2 separate regions of the Homo sapiens genome follow, and region 1 is linked to region 2. Evidence: fine-mapped expression QTL. A gene starts in region 2. The other region holds a variant in brackets. All regions are shown on one strand. Distances are from middle to middle. Region 1 has its middle 31 kb from the start of HSD17B4. Region 2 holds the start of HSD17B4 (hydroxysteroid 17-beta dehydrogenase 4).

The links.
Region 1: its variant is fine-mapped to the expression of HSD17B4 in blood mononuclear cells (TOPMed, PIP 0.96).

The regions. Positions count from the first base shown.
Region 1 is chr5:119,415,631-119,426,580 of GRCh38, reverse strand. No RefSeq gene overlaps it. Among named protein-coding and RNA genes, the nearest start is that of HSD17B4, 31 kb to the left of the region's middle. The variant C/T (reference allele first, on the strand shown) is at 6,031.
Region 2 is chr5:119,447,348-119,458,297 of GRCh38, reverse strand. It overlaps HSD17B4 (hydroxysteroid 17-beta dehydrogenase 4), which reads right to left and starts at 5,801. Exons shown (of 24, transcript NM_000414.4): 1 at 5,665-5,801; 2 at 1,930-1,983. The coding sequence starts at 5,722. RefSeq lists an enhancer at 5,651-5,700.

The DNA.
Region 1 (10,950 bases), 32 kb after region 2:
GTTAGAACTCCTCCCATGTTTGTTCTCCTTGCTCCCACCTTATGGATAGCTCTATTCTGAAGATTCACTCTTCTAAGGGAGACACTAGGCTTTTTGGCTTAGTCCGAACAGTGTATGGAAAGCTGGGAGAACATGAAGAGATATTACGATGAAACCGCATTCTTTTTCTTTTTTGCTGCCTAGTCTCTAAATTACCTTCCCATTGTTGGATAATACCTTACTTGTTTCCTACTTCAGAGTCTGAAAATACTGGGTACTCTTCTTCCCAGCCTCCACTGCAGCCAGGCATAGCACATGACCTAAGTTCTGCAAATCATGTACTTCCTCCCAAGGCACTGAATTGAGAAATAATGATTGATGGGGTGAATGACAAACTATACAGAATGCATTCTGGTGATGGATAGTTGGAGGAGAAATGGCATCAGTTCTAGCAGGAGTGAGCAGGATTCAGTGGTGGTAGTCTCAGGGGTGCAAGTGGCGTCATCTAATATCCAGCTGTGAGGATAACAGTATCTTCATCATACCAACTCTGTGGCATGATTTAGACATAGCTCCTGACTGCAGAGCCTCGGAATCTAGCTTTCTTCCCCCCACCTAGAGATTCTGGTGGCCACCTTGTGTCCTTTTAATAATCCTTCCGTACTTAAATCAGACAGAGTCAGTTTTTCTTGCTTATGAATAGGAACCCTAAGCAAGACAGTTATTTCCAAAGTATTATTCTTGTTACATAGGTCGTGGCTGAAGCCATAGTTCTTGTAATGATTTTAAACAGATTCTGTGCCTATCACTTCCCCCATCCCTTGCAGGGTCTCAGCGGCCTACCAATAGCAAGATTACATTGTTCTATTAACAGGTTTCCTCTGGGTATGAAGAAACCTTAGGTTGATTATTTTTACCAAAAATATTCCTAAATCAGCCACAATTTCCAACATCAGAGATTACATTTGGACATGTAGGAAAAAAAAAAACATTATATATACTAAGCACATACAATGGGATTCACAAGGCAGGGTGAATCCCATTGAGAGCCAATTCTCCATAGACCTTTCATGTTTCTGCTCATCTTATGACAAGAGGTACTAACTACCCTTTTGTCCTAGACTATCGTTTTAAGGATGTTTGTATAATGAATAAGACAATGAAATGGAAAATAGAGATAGCATTTGCTTATGGAACAAAGGACAGGTTTGTTTACTGTCCAGTGTCATAAATATAACATCTCCCTCTTGAGCAAAGTTCGGGAAGGTTTGCTTGCAGCCATTATAAAAGATCCAGGTTTCCTAGCCTCAGAGTTCTTCAGCTGTGGCACAAAACTGCTGCATGCTCAGCACCAACCTAGGCCCCTCTGCCTCTCACTCATGGAGCATGGCAAGGACAAGGAAACCAATGAAAACATGAAACTCATAGAACTTGTGCTGTAAGCAATAAAAGCATTTGTCTCTGACCCTGGAGTCTGGTATCTTGTCTCAGCATCCACTGAACTAGTTAGGCTAACTAGTCAGCTTGCCAGTAAGTTATAATCTCAGACCCTTCACAGTTCTTGACAAATCCATACTAAGAAAGAAAAATAAGCAACATATAGTGCAAAGAAAAGAGCTCATAATTCTAACCAAGGTGGCATGAAAGACTTCAAGAAGAAGGAGGCATTTGATTTAAGCTTGAAGGATTTAGGTAGGCATGCCATTAATTGGAATAGGAAACATCAGAAGAGGAGTGAGTTTATGGAGGGCAATGAGTAGAAAAATTGGGGGAACAGAGATGGAGTCAATAGATTTCGTTTAACATGTGGATTTTAAGATGCAAATGAGGACTTTTTGTAGACAACTCAGAAAGCATCTGGAAAATTAGTTTTAGAAATTAAGAGGGAATCAAGAGTTTAAGATATAAAAGAGAACAACATGAAAATAGAGTTGGTGTCTTGGAAGTGGACGAAATTATCCAGCCAGAATATGCAGAGCAAGAGAAAGACAGAGAAATAGAGAGATACACACAAAGAGAGAGACAGAGAGAGGAGATCCCCACATTTAAGACCCAGTTAGAGGAAAGGCAACAATAACAACTGAGGAAAAGTGAGTGAGAGCTGTGACAGTGACCAGAAAAATATAGCATTCACCAAAGGGAGAGTAGAAACTGAAGAGGTCAATAGTGTCGATGCTGCAGATAATATAATTAGAAAAAGTGTCATCTTAATGGACTTATCTTACTTGGGGAGAAGGAGAAATTTTCTGCATCTTAGGCCATGATTCAACCTTGGCTCAGTGAGGACAGACATAACTAGCCCCTCTTTTGTATGGCCCCACTTAGTATCTCTCCCCAGAGGAAGGAAGAAAGACCAATCTGACTGAAGAGAGCCAGAGGTATTCGCTGAACCACATTTACTAACGTGAGGATACCATGCTCTAAAGGCAGTAACAAGCCCCACCGTTTCTGTTCCACTTCCTACACCTATATGGTGGGCTTCCTTCTGCTTCCTTTATTCTGTCGCATGGATTATCAGCAAGCTGATCAAGACTGTTACTCAGCTAGTAAGAGGCTAAGCCATCTCCTTTCTGTTCTTTATCTTCCAGTATGGCAGTTTCGTCCAGACTATCACTTGAAACTATGGAGTGGCCAGCCTAGACCTGCCTGGCATTGGGCACTGGAACAAGCATACTCCTTTTTGTAATCTTATTTGTTTTCATTTGGTTCCTATGGGCATAGATTTCCTATCTCTGCAGTTACAGAACTTGAGGTATGAAATAGGGAGAGGCCCACACTGAATCCTGAACATTTTGGTGCTCAATGTGGCAACAAATGAGAGCTACCATCTGAAACCAAAATATGGCAAGGAGAGATGAAAACTTTTGTATTTACCATGGCTGATTTGAGCTGTCACTGAGCTGCAGCTGTCTTTAGATGGCAGCTATGCAGGCCAAAAGTATGCTTTAGCATTTTTAAACCACAGTATCTGAGTTTAATAAGAAAATGGATCCATCTGGGGATCAACATAGGCTTTCCAGGAACTCATATTGCATAAGTCAGGATCAAGTCTTGAATGGAGATAGAAATTCCTTTCCTGGGGTCACAAGAAGCTTTCTAAGGGGCTCTATACTGCAACGGCAGCTGGATTTTGCATGAACTGTAGAACCATTGCTAGAGCCAGGAACAGAGCTTAGACTTGCTCTTTTTCTCAAGCTCAGCTTACTAGGTGGAAATCTCATAGATTTTTTTTTCTGATTTTTTTCTCCTTTATCTTATTCCTTAGCCTTGGACAGATGATCCAGGTTGAACCTGCTGTAGCAAGAAAATGTTAGCAAGAAGGAAATTTTTAAGCATCCTTTGGAGTAGCAAAGTCAGTGTTACTAATCGATGCCTAGCAAATGTCATTGCACCCTAACTGGGCCTCTGAAACCTTGTTATGTTGGTAACAAAAGGTACAACACAGTGGGCCGGGCGCGGTGGCTCACACCTGTAATGCCAACACACTGGGAGGCCGAGGTGGGATCACGAGGTCAGGAGATCGAGACCATCCTGGCTAACACAGTGAAACCCCGTCTCTACTTAAAAAGTCCAAAAAATTAGCTGGGCATGGTGGCAGGCACCTGCGGTCCCAGCTACTCGGGAGGCTAAGGTAGAAGAATGGGGTGAACCCAGGAGGTGGAGCTTGCAGTGAGCCAAGATCATGCCACTGCATTCCAGCCTGGGTGACAGAGCAAGACTCTGTCAAAAAAAAGAAAAAAAGAGTACATAGAAACACAACTAGTCTTATTACACAAGATATTTCCCAATTGAGTTTAGGCTCACAGACCCTGGCCAACTGGCACAGTATGACTGGTAACCTGGCAAGCAACCTGACAAGCTCAAACAAGCTTTTCTGTTTTCTCCATTCTGCAAATTATCCTAAATCGCTTGGCTGGCAACTGCAATAAAGATCTAAATTGTGCTGGGATCTGGGAAATATCATTTTTGCTTGTGATAACTGCTGCTCATGTTTCCTAAGTATTGTGGGTGTGTAGCTGCTGCTACACTGGTCTTATGCATCCTGTGCTCTTTGGAAAAGTAAGACAAGTGAGAGAATTGCAGTTGAGTTCATCCCACTTTGGAGGTGCAAGAGGAGCTAGCATTCATTCTAGTATAACAGCACAAGATACGGTGATAGCATCCAGTGGTGACTAGTGTATAAAAGTGATGCTTTCACTGCATATTCTCACTCATAAGTAGAAGCTGAACAATGAGAAAACATGGACACAGAGAGGGAAACATCATACACTGGAGCCTGTTGGGGCATGGGGGGCAAGGGGAGGGAGAGCATTAGGACAAATACCTAATGCATGTGGGGCTTAAAACCTAGAGGACGGGTTGACAGGTGCAGCAAAACACCATGGCACACATATACTTGTGTAACAAACCTGCACATCCTGCACATATATCCCAGAACTTAAAGTAAAATAAAATAAAATAAATAAACATTTCCACATTTTTATAAAGTGGTGTTTTTAATAAAAGCAGTACCATGTTTTCCATTTTAAACTTATCTCTTGGGCACACAGATCCCTATGCAGGAGGTAAGATTTCATCATGCATACATTCAGCCTTTATTTATTAAGGGCTTGTATTAGTCTGTCCTCATGCTGCTAATAAAGACATACCCAAGACTGGGTAATTACAAAGGAAAGAGGTTTAATTGACTCATGATTCCACATGTCTGGGAAGGCCTTACAATCATGGTGGAAAGCAAATGAGGAGCAAAGCCACATCTTATATGTCGGCAGGCAAGAGAGAGCTTGTGCAAGGGAACTCCCATTTATAAAACCATCAGATTTTGTGAGACTTATTCACTACCACGAGAACAGTATGGGGAAAACCACCCCCATGATTCAATTATCTCCCACCAGGTCCCTCCCATGACACATGGGAGTTATGGAAGCTAGAGTTCAACATGAGATTTGAGTGGGGACACAGCCAAACCATATCATTTCACCCGTGGCCCCTTCCAAATCTCATGTCCTTACATTTCAAAACCAATCACACCAGCCAGGTGTGGTGGCTCACACCTGTAATCCCTGCTCTTTAGGAGACTGAGGTAGGTGGATCGCCTGAGGATAGGAGTTTTAGACCAGCCTGGCCAAGACGGTGAAACCCTGCCTCTATTAAAAATACAAAAATTAGCCAGGAATGGTGGTGCATGACCGTAGTCCCAGCTACTCAGGAGGCTGAGGCAGGAGAATTGCTTGAACCTGGGAGGAGGAGATTGCAGTGAGCTGAGATAGTGTCACTGCACTCTAATCTGGGTGAAAGAGTGAGACTCCATCTTAAAAAAACAAAAAACAATCATGCCTTCCCAACAGTCCCCCAAAGTCTTAACTCATTTCAGCATTAACTCAAAAGTCCACAGTCCAAAATCTCATCTGAGACAAGCAAGTCCCTTTTGCCTGTGAGCCTGTAAAATCAAAAGCAAGTTAGTTACTTCCCAGATACAATTGGGGTACTGGAATTGGGAAAATACACCTGTTCCAAATTGGAGAAATTGGCTAAAACAAAGGAGCCACAGAACCCATGCAAGTCCAAAATCCAGAGGGGCAGTCAAATCTGAAAGCTCCAAAATGATCTCCTTTGACTCCATGTCTCACATCCAGGTCATGGTGATGCAAGAGGTGGGTTCCTATGGTCTTGGGCAGCTCTGCCCCAGCTTTGCAGGGTACAGCCCCACTCCTGGCTGCTTTCACGGGCTGGCATTGAGTGTCTGTGGCTTTTTCAGGCACACAGTGCAAAGTGTCAGTGGACTTACCATTCTGAGGTCTGGAAGACGGTGGCCTCTTCTCACAGCTCCACTAGGCAGTGCCCCAGTGGGGGCTCTGTGTGGGGCCTCAACCCCACATTTTCTCTTCTGTACTGCTCTAGCAGAGGTTCTCCATGAGGTCCCCACCCCTGCAGCAAACATCTGTCTGGACATTCAGAGTTTCCATACATCTTCTGAAATCTAGGCAGACATTCCTAAACCTTAATTCTTGACTTCTGTGCACCCTCAGGCTCAATACCATGTGTAAGCTG[C/T]CAAGGCTTGGGGCTTACACCTTCTGAAGCCATGGCCTAAGCTATACTTTGGCCCCTTTTAGCCATGGCTAGAGCGACTGTGTGGTAGGGTATGAAGTCCCTAGACTGCCTACAGCAGAGGGACCCGGGGCCCAGTCCACAAAACCAGTTTTTCCTCCTAGGCTGCCAGGCCTGTGGTGAGAGACGCTGCTGTGAAGACCTCTGACATGCCCTGGAGACATTTTCCTCTTTCTCTTGGTGATTAACATTTGGTTCCTCATTTCTTACACAAATTCTGCAGCCAGCTTGAATTTCTTCTCAGAAAATGGGTTTTTCTTTTCTATCTCATTGTCAGGCTGCAAATTTTCCAAACTTATATGCTCTGCTTCCCTTTTAAACATAAGTTCCAATTTCAGATCATCTCTCTTAGGTTCAAAGTTCCACAGATTTCTAGGGCAGAAGCGAAATGCCACCAGTCTCTTTGCTAAAGCATAACAAGAGTGACCTTTGCTGTAGTTCCCAACAAGTTTCTCATCTTCATCTGAGACCACCTCAGCCTGGATTTCATTGTTTATATCATTATCATCATTTTGGTCAAAACCATTCAACAAGTCTCCAGGAAGTTCCAAACTTTCCTACATTTTTCTGTCTTCCTCTGAGCCCTCCAAACTGTTTCAACCTCTGCCTGTTACCCAGTTCCAAAGCCGCTTCCGCATCTTCGTGTGTCTTTACAGCAGTGCCCCACTCTACTGGTACCAATTTACTCTGTTAGTCTGTTCTCATGCTGCTAATAAAGACATACCCCAGACTGGGTAATTATAAAGGAAAGAGGTTTAATTGACTCACAGTTCCACGTGGCTGGAGAGGCCTCACAATCATGGCAGAAGGTGAATGAAAAGCAAAATCACATCTTACAAATCGGCAGGCAAGAGAGAGTTTGTTCATGGGAAATCCCACTTATAAAACCATCAGATCTCGTGAGACTTATTCACTACCAGGAGAACAGTATGGGGGAAACTGCTCCTGTGATTCAATTATCTCCCACCAAGTCCCTTCCACGACATGTGGAAATTATGGGAGCTACAATTCAAGATGAGATTTGTGTGGGGACACAGTCAAACCATATCAGGGCTGCTATGGGTCAGGCACTGTTCTTGGTGCTGCAAACAAAATAGACAAGGTCCCTGCATTTATAGATCTTATATTCTAGAGAGAAAAGAGTTGATAAACTACAAATAAATAATTCCAGATAACTGTAAGTGCTAAGGGAAGATATTTATTAATTTAACAGATGTCATTATTTTCTAGGCACTTTCTTAGTATTTTACAAATATTAACTTATCTGATTTCATAACGACCTAAAAAGTAGATTTTATAATTATCCTCATTTTCAGATGAGAAACCCTTCCACAAAAAGGTTAAATAACTGCTAGCATAGAGTGAAGTGAGAATTCAAACCCCAGTGATTTTTGCCTAAAACTGGATAATTCTATTCAAAAGAGACTGGAAGCAGAGACAGGGAGGGGAGGTACAAATCTACAGAAGGTATCCTGGAAAGGCTTACAGGGAGGTGAATTTTGAGCTGAGACCTGAATGTCAACAAGGAACCAGTCAAGCAAGCATTAGGACAGACCCTTCTGGGCAGAATGAAAAGCACATGCAAAAGCTCTGTGGGGAAAACACCTTGACTTCCTGGTACATGAGGAGGTCAAAGAAGTGGGCAAGGACCAGATTGTGTGGAGCCTTGTAGGCAATAGTTACAAGTATGGATTTTCTTCTAATTATAATAGAAATCCCTTGAAAAGCCAGGGAGTAAAATAATCTGATATGTAAAACCACAAATTTCATTACATATACTTATAAGAATGTATGTGCCTAGAGAAAAGCCCAGGGAGGGGCATACCAACTGATAACGGTGGTTAGTTCTGGAGATATGTTCGGGATCATGACAGTGATGAAAGAGACTTTCACTTTATCTTTTTTTGTTCACATGAAAATGTACTTGTGTAATTATACAAATGAATAATTTTAAAAAAACAATTTAAGCTCCTTAAAATACCATGTATTGCATAGCGTAAAACCTACTCAATTACAAGCAGATGCACCATGCTAAAGAAAACACAATATTGGGCAGCTTGTGTAGCCTGAGTTGTATGATGTGTATCTCCCTTAGAGAAACCACAAGCAGCCATGTGTATTGCATAATAAGCTAATCAGCTTAGGAAGCAGAGAATTTGGGAGTACTGAGGAGAAGCATGCTAAATAAAGCTGCATGCTGAGGCTGAGAAAATGCAATTTAGGAATAAGAACTTAGCTGGTTTCTCTAACTGGAAAGCCGTGGATGATCTGTGCGTTGTATAAACTATGAAAACCACTTTCAGTGTAAAGTTGAGCTACTGCCAGCATTTGTCTCTCTTTACAGAATGTACCCAGTGAAATGTTAATTAGGAGTAAAACTGGCTTACCTCATTCACCTATTCCTTTGACACTTAAGCCACTTGGGATTTACCACCCACTTTCACATTTTGTTACGTTCAGTCTTCCAACTTCCTGTTCACAACCCCTCTTTTATCACTTAGTTTATTTCCTGCTGTCTTGCGCTCCACCTCAACTGCTTTTATTCTGCTTGGGGACTTCAGAATCAATGTGCATTGGACCCACTGAATTGGACCCATCCAATACTTTGTATCCTAGTTAATGCTCTCATTTCCAGTGACTTTTTAAATTTAACAACTGCTAGCACTCTCGCCCATACTCACAACCCTGAATGTGTTCATTACCAAGAACCTTACCACTTCTGAAATCTCATGTCCGAATGTCCTGCCTTTCTAGCACAAGTGCTCCCACTGCAGAAGTCTCCAGCACCATGACCTCCAGTGCATCCTTGGCGCTCCTAATACCCAGACCCTTTTCTGTCTTACTTTCTTGTCTTGCTTAGACTCTATGACCCACCATTACAATCTACAGCCTTGCTTCTCTTTTCCTTCTATCATGCTTTCCTAGAAAACTTTGCAGTTTTCCAGTTTAAAATGTTTTCTAACTTCTAACATTTCTTTCTTGATGCATGAGTTATTTACAAGTTATCTTCTTAAAATCAAACAAGGAAATTTCCTAGTCATCTTTTTGTCAATGATTTTGAGCTTAATGCATTATTATCAAAAAACATTCCCTGATTTCAAGCCTTTTAAATATAGGGAAGCCGGCTTTATGATCCACCATACTGTCAATTTTAACAGGGATTCCATGTATACTTGAAAAGAATGGGTATTTGCAGTTTGGGGCTCAGGGTTCCATATGTGGTCATTAGGTCAAGTTTGTAGATCATATTGTTCAAGTCTTCTGTATCTTTATGGATATTTTATCTGCTTGCACTATCAGTTACTGACAGAAATATGTTTAAAATACCCCACTATGATTCAGGGTTTTTCTAAATCTCTTGTTATTCTTTCCATTTTTTTGCTTTATACGTATTTGAAGGTTTGCTATTGTCCTGTGATCCATTCTATACTATAGAAGACCAGACCCCAGGAAACTATCTACAACTTCCCGAGGATCATGAGGACCTTAGCAGGTTTACTTTTTTAAATTCTAGAGAAATTGTCTGTTTAGTGTCTCGCTGGAATACAATCACTATGGCCAAGGAGTGTCTTGGCAAGCCAATGCTGAGTCATAAGCTAATTCTTTTTTTTTTTTTTTTTTTTTTTTGAGACGGAATCTCACTCTGTCGCCCAGGCTGGAGTGCAGTGGTGCAATCTCAGCTCACTGCAAGCTCCGCTTCTCAGGTTCACATCATTCTCCTGCCTCAGCCTCCCGAGTAGCTGGAACTACAGGCACCCACCACCACACCTGGCTAATTTTTTGTATTTTTAGTAGAGACAGGGTTTCACTGTGTTAGCCAGGATGGTCTTGATCTCCTGACCTCATGATCCACCCGCCTCAGCCTCCCAAAGTTCTGGGAATACAGGCGTGAGCCACCCCATCTGGCCGTCATAAGCTAATTCTTTAGGGCAAGATCTAAGACTGTCAGCTCCTACAAAAACGTGGAGAAATTCCTCAAAAAAAAAGTGGACTACTGTTTTGCACAGACAATACATTTGCACTGCAACTAGCTTTTTACAATTGTAAATAGACAGCATGACAACTCTTTGGAGTTAGCATTAGCAACTCAGATTCAAAGCAGTAGCCCATCCACTGTAGACCGTGGGAGGGGCCTAAGTATTTAACATAGATGAGCAAAGAATATAGAATCAGAAAATGCAAGAAAATTTCTGGAAAGAGTGATACAAGTTACTTTTACTTAAAAGTCACACCTCAGTTTGAATTTCAACACCTTCCCTATCTATATAAACGTGTATAAATTATTGACCTACTCTAATCCCCTTCTGAAAGATATAATTTAAGTGCCTAGTAAATACTAACTGCTCAATAAAGGTTAATTTCCTACATAAGGAGGGAGAGTTTACTCTAGAACACCACAGTGATTATAACTTATATTCATAGATGATTGGATATATTTATGCTTAATTATGCATAGAGTTCATAGTATAAACTATCGGTTTAGTCTTTCTCATCTAAATCTCAGTTTTAAAGAATCTCTTCAACATTTGGATATGAGAGGTGGCTTCACAGGTATATTAGTTATTATGCTGTTTAACAAATCACTCCAAAACCTAGACACTTACATCACAAACACTCCTTTATTATCTCTGTTTATGTGGGTTGGAAATTTGGGCATAGCTTAGCCAGATACCTAAAGCTTGCAGTCTCTCAAAATGTGTCTCACAAGGCAATCAAGGTGTCCACTTCAACTGCAATCATTTCAAGACTCATCTGGGGGAGGACCCACTCTGAGTTCACTTCTGTGGCAATAGGCAGACCCCGGGTCTTTTCTGGCTGTTGGCTGGAGACATCAGTTCCTTGCCACCTGGACCACTCCATAAG
Region 2 (10,950 bases):
TAAAAAGGCTAACAGGTAAGACACAGACTTTAAAAAGGAATAGAAAACATCAGTCAAAATTTCTGCACTTCCACATGGATTGAATTCTCCTCCTTAATACTAAACTAAATCTGGCTCTTCATTCAAGTTTATGAAATATTTTTCTTCTATATTCTTGGACTTTTATCAGGACTTGACACAATTATCATCTCTACTATAATAATGCAATGACAAAATAGATAGACACAGCATCTCTGTTTAATTTTTTCTTAGAATTCAAATACTCCTAATCTGAATTTAAGAAATTGAGAGGGAACAGGGAAATAAAGGAAAATTGATGCACAGGAACACACTGTTATAAAATTTTTTACAAAACAGGTTTATAAACTAAGTTTATATCTTAGTCAAGAACAAAAAAAAGAAATGTATTCAACCAATCTCAAACACACCCTTCCCCCAGAAAAGTATATCAACAATAAAAGAACCAATGAACAAAGTACCTTCTTTGCACAAAGAAATATTCTAGGTCCTTTAGTAGATACAAAAGATAAAACAAGATCCTTGCCGTTATGGAATTGAGCAGAAAAGATGTAAATAAATAAAAACATATAAGGTAAAAATATTAAGAACTAAATAGCAACATAAAAAGGAAGGAAAATTAAAAATAGTAACAGCATGTGTCTTTAGGCCTCAACATGAGCTATTCTTGGGAAAATCTGACAAAGTGGGCCTGAAATATATACTCGCTGTCCAAATAATACAATGTCAAAATTCATCCCTGCCAGAAGAAGCAGATTGGATTAGCAGACAGTGCCTATGATCTTAAACAAGGAACATCCAAAGCGTCAGTGTTCCTTCCATAAAGATAAGCTACACATCCACAATGAAGGAGAAAAGTGTATCAAGTGCTCTGCTTAGGGCTTGTTTAGAAAACCTGGTTGCTTGCTTACTCTTTTGTTATATGTGTCTCCCTGAACAAACTGATGAAAATTCGTCTCTCTGTATTGCCTCGTTAAGATGTCAGAAAGCTGAAATTAGAAGATCATTGTGGGCCCACAGTTTTATCCCAGGAAATATGCTAATAAGTACTGGGTCCTACATATCCCCCTGCACTTAGCACCCATTTAGTTATTCCCCAGAAAGGCTCAGTTGTGGACAAATTCGTTTCTGTGTCCACACCAACTGTCAAGCACATTAGATCAGTCCAAACCATGCAGATTACTAAAACCTCCCACCTTTAGGATTCTTCAATACAGTATCTTCCATCTGACCCCTCCACAAACAAAAACTCATGTAACTGCCCCCTCAATTAAATTTTTTTAAAACACTTCCAGCTGAAAAGTTTTGATGAAAGAGTCAAGAAACCCATACTTTAGATTCCTTGACTCCAAACTTCCAGTTCTCAAAATTCAGTTATTTCTTACTTTTATCAATACACTTACAGGGGCTCTCTTTTGATCTCGCACCAGTAGACAAACCTCCTGTCTCAAAAAATTACAGCCTACAATTTACTGAAGTCAAGAATTTCCTTTTATACAATAAATGCTTGTCCCCACCCTTTTCTGTGAGAAACAGGGTTTTTTTTGCGCCATCACCCAGATTGGAGTGCAGTGGTATAATCATAGTTCTCTGCAGGCTCGAACTCCTGGTCTCAAGCGATCCTCCCACCTCAGCCTCCTGAGTCACTGGAGTTATAGCCACAAGCCAGCATGCCTACCCCCTAGCCCTTCGTTATCAATTCTGTTAAGCTGGGAATTCTGTGAAACTGGTTCCCTTTTAAAAGTAATTTAGACAGACAGCCTTAGTCGGGGTAAAAACCTTCTGGCAAAAGTAAAAATTAATAATAAAATTCAACCTTGACAAATTATTTGATAGAAAGACAAAGATAGCTTGTAAAGATTGTATTTCAGTTATCAGCTACAGATTAAAAAGAAAAACACACCAACTTACCAACAACTAACGCTCCTCTTTCTGCAAAAGCCAGGGCATAGGCTCGGCCCAATCCTAATCAAAAACAAAATAATCAGAAAGTTGAAGAAATGTCAGCATAATTTTTTTGGTCCGCTCAACTCAATCCCCATTTAAAGAAATTGGTGAACAATTAATTACATTTTAATGATACTCTCAACCTATCCTATCACTGACATTCTCAACCTATCCACTCTCTTCTGCTTGCAGAGGCTGGAAAGCTTAAAACTGTATTTTTCCACCTATTCTACTACCACTTCCTACCATTCTACTTAGCTGCTAGGATGCTGTGAATTGGGTTCCACCATCTGATGCATCTGCATAAAACTTAGAAGGTGTAAGTGAGACAGAGACCACCTTACTGGGAGTTCTGGCTGTTGTTGTTAAGAAGCTAGTTTTCTTGAAAGTTCCTAGGTATTCAGAAACTGACTATAGCAGCGACTTCTTCATTCAGCTCCCTAATCCCTGGATGGCAGCTTCCATACTTCAGGTCCCTAGTGCCAGTGCTACTTGGGCTGTGGCACAGCTCCAATGACAGCCTCAGAGGTATTGCCTCCTCTAATGGATCAATTTCCTATTGTTTCAGGAGTTATTCTAAGAAGACCTGCCTAAAACCTAATTGCCTGTATTGAATCCTTTGCTGCTTAAAATATCTAGTGGTTTCTGTATCCCACAGTGAACCCTGACTACACAGTCATCAAATACAGAAAATATTTAATTCTGACTCAAAGCTACAAGGTGTAAATTTATATATCCAAAAAGAAATTATATATATATATATAGAGAGAGAGAGAGAGAGAGAGAGAGAAAGTTTTGCTTTTTTTCTTTTTTTTTGAGATCCAGTCTCACTCTGTCGCCCAGGCTGGAGTGCAGTGGCATGATCTCGGCTCACTGCAACCTCCACCTCCCAGGTTCAGGTGATTGTCCTGCCTCAGCCTCGCGAGTAGCTGGGACTACAGGCGCCCGCCACCACGCCCAGCTAATTTTTGTATTTTTAGTAGAGATGGGGTTTCACCATGTTGGCCAGGATGGTCTCGATCTCTTGACCTCGTGATCAGCCCACCTCGGCCTCCCAAAGTGCTGGGATTACAGGCGTGAGCCACCACCATCCCCAGCCAAGAGAGAAGTTTTATAGGCATAGAGTATCTCGGGAAAAACACATTAGAAACTGGCAATTAGTGGTTACCTCTGGAGGACAGAACTATGTGGCTAGCAATAAGGGGTGGAAGGCTTACTTCTGGATTGTTTTTCTGTATTGTTTACATTTTTTAATATGTGTATATTTTTTACATTTTAAGTTAATTGATAAATTTCATTGACAAATGAATAAATTTAATTAACAATTTATATTTAGTATAAATTAATCAATAAGTATACAAATAACAAACTGAGATACATAAATTATTAGCCCCTTCCAAAAACAACCCAAGGCCAGGAGTAGTGACACACATCTGTAATCCCAACACTTTATGAGACAGAGGTGGGCGGATCATTTGAGGTCTGGAGTTCAAGACCAGCCTGGCCAACAGGGTGAAACCCCGTCTCTATTCAAACCACAAAAATCAGCTGGGCTTGGTGGTGTGCACCTGTACCCCCAGCTACTTGGGAGGCTGAGGTAGGAGAATTGTTTGAACCCGGAAGGCAGAGGTTGCAGTCAGCCAAGATCATGTCACTGCACTCCAGCCTCGGCAACAGAGCAAAACTCCCTCTCAAACAAAAACAAAAAGAACCAAAAATATACAGTTTTCCAAAACTAGGAAATTTCACCAAATAACTTATTTTAGAATTTAATCCAAGCAGAAGGATCACTTGAGGCCAGGAGTTTGAGACCAGCCTGGGCAACAAAGCGAGACTCCATCTCTTGAAAACATTTAAAAATTAGCTGGGCGTGGTGGCACATGCCTACAGTCCTAGCTAGTCTGGAAGCTGATGCAAAAGGATCACTTGAGCCCAGGAGTTCAAGGTTACAGTGAGCCATGATCGGGTCACTGCACTCCAGCCTGGGTACAGAGTAAAACCTTTAGCTCTGAAAAAAAAAAAAAATTTAATCAACTCTGAATGGGTAAGAGAGAATTTAACCAGTTTATGAACAGCAGGTGCTAAGTTCATAACTGTCTAGTCACAACTCATTGTTTCACAAAATCAATTTTGTGGGTTACAATTACAATTTATAAATAAAACAGAATAGAAAATAAATTTCAGGATGCATTGCCTGTACTACACACTATATCATGAACTGGTTTTAAATACAGATGTATGTGCTTGTGTAAGTGTACTGAGTACTGGTGTAAAATGTACTGCATACCATGTGTAAGTATGCTAATGGTGTCAAAAGAAGCAGTCCCTATCCTTGAATGATTTTCAGATATAGCCCCTGAAAAGGAAAGTCTCCTTAGCGATGGCAAAAACGTCTTAGAATGTAATCCCTGGACCTCCTGCATGAAAATTATCCAAGAGCTGTCAAAAAAGATTTAAAACACCAAGCGTTGTAAAATACATTATTTACAATAAAAGCAAAGTGTAAACAAAATGTTTTCCTAAAAACATTTAGAAGGTATGACTACACCCAAATACATGCCCATGCAGAGATAACCAGACAGCTATGGGTATAAAATACTTGGCTATTCATCAACACTGAAAGCATTTTCTGAAAGGCAGCATAAGAAGCCACTTTATCAATACAGATATGAAAGTACATAGGAATTAATTGACAGAATTCCAGTTTGTAACGTTTAATATATAACTCAAATAATTCATGCATTAGGGCCTTTCCAGGTATAAGGTACTACCAGTGGAGAATCAAAGGTGCATAATGTCAAGATCCCTGCACTTGGAGGTTACAGAGGTCACCCACTGGTGAGAAACTAATGTAAAATCTCACTGCACAGCATCTATGTTGGTATGAATGGTTTGTTTTAATTTTTTGTACTTTAAAAAATGGGGCTATTTCACATAACAATTTTCCATTTTGCCGCTCCTGAAATACAGGCAACTTTCCCACTGGCCGGTCCACTTCGGAATTCTCTGCTCTCCAGTTCCTCAGATGTGCCCATCCTACTCCCATTTTCTTTCTCCATCATACGCCTGACCCCTGTGCGCATTTGAGCTTACAACCTCTGCCAAGACTCCAGTGGATTTCGAGAACAGATTGTGACTTGCTAAGCATACAAACTCCAACGGGGAAGGGCTCTTATCAGACGCCCTCTTTAAAGAAGGTCCTCTCACGAACTTAAAATCTTACGACAGAGGGAAACAAACACTGAACGACCGAATGACTTTTCAGGAGCTGACATCTCTGCGCTTCAGGGGGCGAATTCCAGCCCCCGCCCCTCGCGGCTTTTCAGTCCTTTAAAAGACTAGGCAAAGATCTAAGAGAGTTAATTGCAGGAAGAGTAACAATCGATGCCCACAGATAAGGGTCAGGGAGAACTTTCACCCAGTTTTGCAATCAGCAGCCCAGCCTGGCCTCTCCTCTCAGGCAGGACCTTGGGAAGCCCACACCGGGGTGCTGGGGAGAAGCGGGCTGTACCTGCTTGAGAGACCAGGTGTTTCCGGCTCTTTCCTCCTCAAGAGATGCGGTGCCTCAAGAATAACCATTCCCCTCCCCACCACCTCAGCGGGGTGACCTCAGCTGCGGCTGCGCGCGTATGCCGGCCCGAAAAGAGCAGCCAGCTGCGCCTCAGCAAGGGGCGCGGCCTCCAACCTTCGCATGCTCACCTGCCCCCGCGCCGGTGACCAGTACCACCCGCCCGTCGAACCTCAGCGGTGAGCCCATGAATAAGGCCTGCAACGACACACACACGAACAAGCAGAGCCGCTGGACGCCGACTGCGGGACAGGAGGAGGCGGGGAATGGCGGGGGCGGGACGAGGGTCAGTGACTTGCCGATTTCTGGTAGGAAGATGAGCGCAGAGCGCGCGGCTCCCTTGGAATCCTGGGAAATGTAGTTAAGAGTGACTCCACTCGCTGGAAGACTTGCCTTCCAGGGGCCATTTCTGCGGCTGGAAGCAATGGGAGCTGCTAGGACTTGTGTAGAAGAATAGTTAACTCGACACCTTGCGTTCATCTATTCACCTGTCGTTTCATCATTCACTCAATAAACGTTTTCTGGGTTTAGTTGCTGACCTAGAGAAACAGCATGCGGCCCCTATCCTTGAGGGGCTTCCAGAGATAGCCCCTGGGAAGGAAAGTCCCCCTTAGGGATGGTAAAGATTTGTCAGTGTAATAATCCCTGCACTTCTACATGCAAACATCAGGGGACTGTCAAAATGCAGAGTCCTGGACCCCCACTGCTTACCTCCCAAAATAGAATCTCAAGGGGCAAAAACATTTTGACAAGTGTTCCTAAATGATCTTGCGTTTGTATGTTGAGAACAGTCATAGTTCAATCAACATTTACTGAGCATCTCCTGAGTTTTGATAGGATCCTCAAGCTACTCAGAGTCAGATGGTAAACTTTCAATAACGGTGCAGCCTAGACTTGTGACCAATGTGTGTAAGTGAGCTAATGGTGTCAAAATAAACAGACCCTATCCCCGCTGGGGAGAAAGAGGAAAAACTTTCTGAAGGAGGACCAGGACCTAAAGTGGCGACCCCTGCAAAGAAAGAAGGGCATTACAGGCAGCACAAACACTAGCTAGGTTTGGGGAGAAAGAGGGTAAAGCCACAAAAGCAAAGCCAGCAAGATCATGTTTAGATGTTTGAATTTTGTGCTGAAAACGGTTTTAAGTAGGATTACTCCAGAGAGTGGTGGGAACACATTTACACTATGGAAAGATCACTTTGCCCATTATGGAGGATTGATTGGATGTTGCGGGAAGTCATGGACCCCAAACAGAGGGACCTGCTAGAGCCGCAGCAGAGGAACATAAATTGTGAAGATTTCACGGACATTTATCAGTTCCCAAATAATACTTTTATAATTTCTTATGCCTGTCTTTACTTTAATCTCTTAATCCTGTTATCTTCGTAAGCTGAAGGTGTACGTCACCTCAGGACCACTGTGATAATTGTGTTAACTGTACAAATTGATTGTAAAACATGTGTGTTTGAACAATATGAAATCAGTGCACCTTGAAAAAGAACAGAATAACAGCAATTTTTAGGGAACAAGGGAAGTCAACCATATGGGCTGACTGCCTGCGGGGTTGGGCAAAAACAGCCATATTTTTCTTCTTGCAGAGAGCCTATAAACGGACGTGCAAGTAGGGAAGATATCACTAAATTCTTTTCCTAGCAAGGAATATTAATATTAATACCCTGGTAAAGGAATGCATTCCTGGGGGGAGGTCTATAAACGGCTGCTCTGTCTTATGTGGTTGAGATAAGGACTGAGATATGCCCTGGTCTCCTGCAGTACCCTCAGGCTTACTACGGTGGGGAAAAACCCGGCCCTGGTAAATTTGTGGTCAGACCAGTTGTCTGCTCTCGAACCCTGTTTCTGTTGTTTAAGATGTTTATCAAGATAATACATGCACTGCTGAACATAGACCCTTATCAGTAGCTCTGCTTTTGCCCTTTGTCTTGTGATCTTTGTTGGACCCTTATTAGTAGTTCTGCTTTTGCCCTTTGTCCTGTTCCCTCAGAAGCATATGATCTTTGTTCTGCTTTTTGCCCTTTGAAGCATGTGATGTTTGTACCTACTCTCTGTTCTTACACCCCCTTCCCTTTTGCAACCCTTAATAAAAAACTTGCTGGTTTGAGGCTCAGGTGGGCATCACGGTCCTACTGATATGTGATGTCACCCCCGGCAGCCCAGCTGTAAAATTCCTCCCTTTGTACTCTTTCTCTATTTCTCAGCTGACTGACACTTATGGAAAATAGAAAGAACCTATGTTGAAATATTGGGGGCAGGTTCCCCCAATAATTAGAGGTGGGCAAGGAGAACATAGAAAAGATTTGGGGGAAATTATGGAAACCAGAAGTAAGGCAGAGGAAATGTTGAAGAAGAAATGTTGAGATAAACTGTATTTGCAAATGGAACTGACAGGGATAGAAGGCAGGGAAATTCTGGGCAGAAGAGGGCAGGTCCCCAGTGAGGGCTCCAACCTCAAGCCTGAAAACACAGCCCAAAGTGAGAACATGCATCCCTGTTTTCCCTCTTGAATGTTGCCTTTTCCAAAACCACCTATGGTCCCCCTGCCCCCCATCCTGTGCCCATAAAAACCCCAGGCTCCAATGGCAGAGAGGAGAGGAGAGAAGAAACAGCTCGACTTCAGAGGTATGGCTTAATGGCGTTGCTCCTGGGGAAGATCACCTTCTCACTCCATCCCCTTTTCAGCTCCCCTTCCCATTGACAGCCACTCTCATCGGCAATAAAATCCTCTGCATTCACCATTATTCAATTTGTTCCTGTGACCTGATTTTTCCTGGATGCCAAACAAGAGCTCAGGTGCCACAGGTGTGACACTAAAGGCTGTCACACTGACCCTCTGCCCTCACTGGCAGAGAGCAAGTGCCTCACACCAAAAAACAGAGGGCCTACTGAGCTGTTTAACATTTAAGCCATCAGTGGATGGCAAAGTTAAAAGAGCACTGTAACACACACCCTCTGGGGCTTCAGGGGCCTTAGGTACCCCTCTAGACACTGCCAAGGGCCACATAGAGTTTTGCTCCTGCATGCACTGGCCCCAGCTCCTGCACCCACTCACCTGTGCTCCCCGTTCCTGTGGAACGCAGTGGGACCCAGTGAATGGAGTCCACCCCTGCCAGACCCAAAGCGGCCAGCTAGTTCTAGATCCTATGTGCTCCAGTTCCTGCCCCCACCCATGAAGGGGTCAGGAAAATTTCCTGCTTCAGAACTAGTCTTTTTGATTAATTAGATGTAGATATGAGAAAAGAGCAACTGAAATAATCCTATATTTTGATTTGAAAATCTAGATTACGATGGGCCATTCATCAAAATAAATAGTGGAGAAAGAGTGGCTTTGGAGGGGTTATGGCTTCAATTTTAGACAAACTGCATCTGTGAAGGGGAAGCAAAACTATGGCTAGAGACACCTAGCAGACAGCTATGGTTCCAGAGCTCTGACAGCTTGGTTTCTGTTATAAATAAAGTTTTGGTGCCACAGAAGAAATAGCACTCGAATATAAAATTTTTTTTTCTTCTCAGCAACGCAGTTTACTTCTATAGAAGGTTGCACTCTCACAGATGGAGCAATGGTGAGCGCACACCCGGACAAGGGAGGGGAAGGGGTCCTTATTCCTGATGCATGTGGCCCCTGCTGCTGTGTCATTCCCCTATTGCCTAGGGTTAGTCCACACAGGTTAAACTAATTCCAGTTGGCTAATTTAAAGAGAGTGACAGGGTGAGTGGTTTGGCAGGAAAAATGGTTATGACAGAGAGGACATCGGAATGAGCCAGGGTAGAGAATGAGCAGGTAATCAGAATGAGACAGGGTGGAGCAGGTAATCGGAAAAGGTTGCTTTACGAGGAAGTTAAGTTTCAAAGTAGAAGGCAAAGAATTGAATACACTGACATACTGATTCTTTTAAAAGAAATTTAGAACTCATATCTAACAACTCCTCCTCTTGCATTTCCTTACAGCTCTTTCTCTTCAAACTTCTTTAACATGTCTTGGCTTAGTTGTTCTGCTTGATTTTCCAAAAGAATAAGCTTCTCTGGATAAGGTGGAGGATAGTTAAGGGAGGATTTAGTAAGTGCCATTTCTATGAGCCTCTGCACCAACCCACAGATGTATGGTATGATACAGCACCCAACAAGAGTAAGTACACCCATTACGGCTGCAAGGGAAGTTAAGAATTGAGGCTATTATTCCTTTCCATTTACCAAACCACTTTTCTAGGCATCCTGTAAAGGGCCCATTTACCCTTAGTTGCTGGCTAACTCACTGGACAGAGCAGTCAGACCTTGCAATGCCTTTGTTATACTTCCATTAGGGGCGGTATTGTTTGGGATGAAGGTACAACACTGAGTTTTAATCATGATGCAAACTCCTCCTCTTTCTGCTAATATCATGTCTCAGGCTATCCTATTTTCCCAAGCCATCTGGCTAGTAGCCCCTAATTGCTCAGCTATTCTTTTAACAGCATCTCTAGGGTAGTTAATAAATCGCTGTTGGTTGCAATAAATGTAGTTTATCAAACCTACATTTTTATTAATTGTAACTTACCAAAATACTGGCTGAAATCCTGCAGCTATTTGATTTTGGGCTTTAAATTGATCTGGTATTCCCAGTGGGACTCCAATTGCGTCTAAATAGACATGAGAGTTGAAAGACCCATAAGGGGCCTCTTTCACTTTACGATGTCTTATTTTTCCTTCCTCCAGTTGATGAAATGCCAGAGTAAAAGAGATAACCAATTGAATTAGACCATAAGTACTGCTCTAATTATTTGGCAGAGTGTCCAGTAAAGGTCCTCCCTAATACCACCATACAACCAGTCAGGGATGAATAAGGGCAGACTGTTGGGTCAGCTCTTGGAAGTGCCTGACTTCCCTGCATCCTGTTAAGTCTCCAGGGAATGCCAAATTTTTCCCCTTGTCATTGGAGACATGAGGTAAAATTGGCTTTGGAAGATGGAGGCTGGATGGCCCTTGGGGGCTGACCCACAGCGTGTTGAACTTCAGGAAATAGCAGAGAAAGAGCTTGGCACAATTTGTTATTCCAGGCGGTAGAATCTTGAAAAAGAGCTACCATGCACTCCATGTCCAGTTGATTTGAGGACCATCCCAGTGGAAAGGGAACAACCTGGGCCTCTGGCCTACTGTGCACACAACAGTAACAGTCGCTTTTGTTTCAAGTGCGAACGGAATATTTAATCCATTTTAACCAGGGATTTACATCTTTTTACTCTGTTTCAATGGCTATGGTTTGCCTTAGGTCTTCTATTTCTACTACTGAGACCTTGCTTTTGTCATTTGGCATGAGGCGAGGCATAGTTTGATTTCATAGGTTTGGGAAAGGGGCAGTTGTAGGAGGTGGAGGAGGGAGAACAAACCACATCTTAAAGAAACCTATAGGATCCTTTCCAGTGACCTCT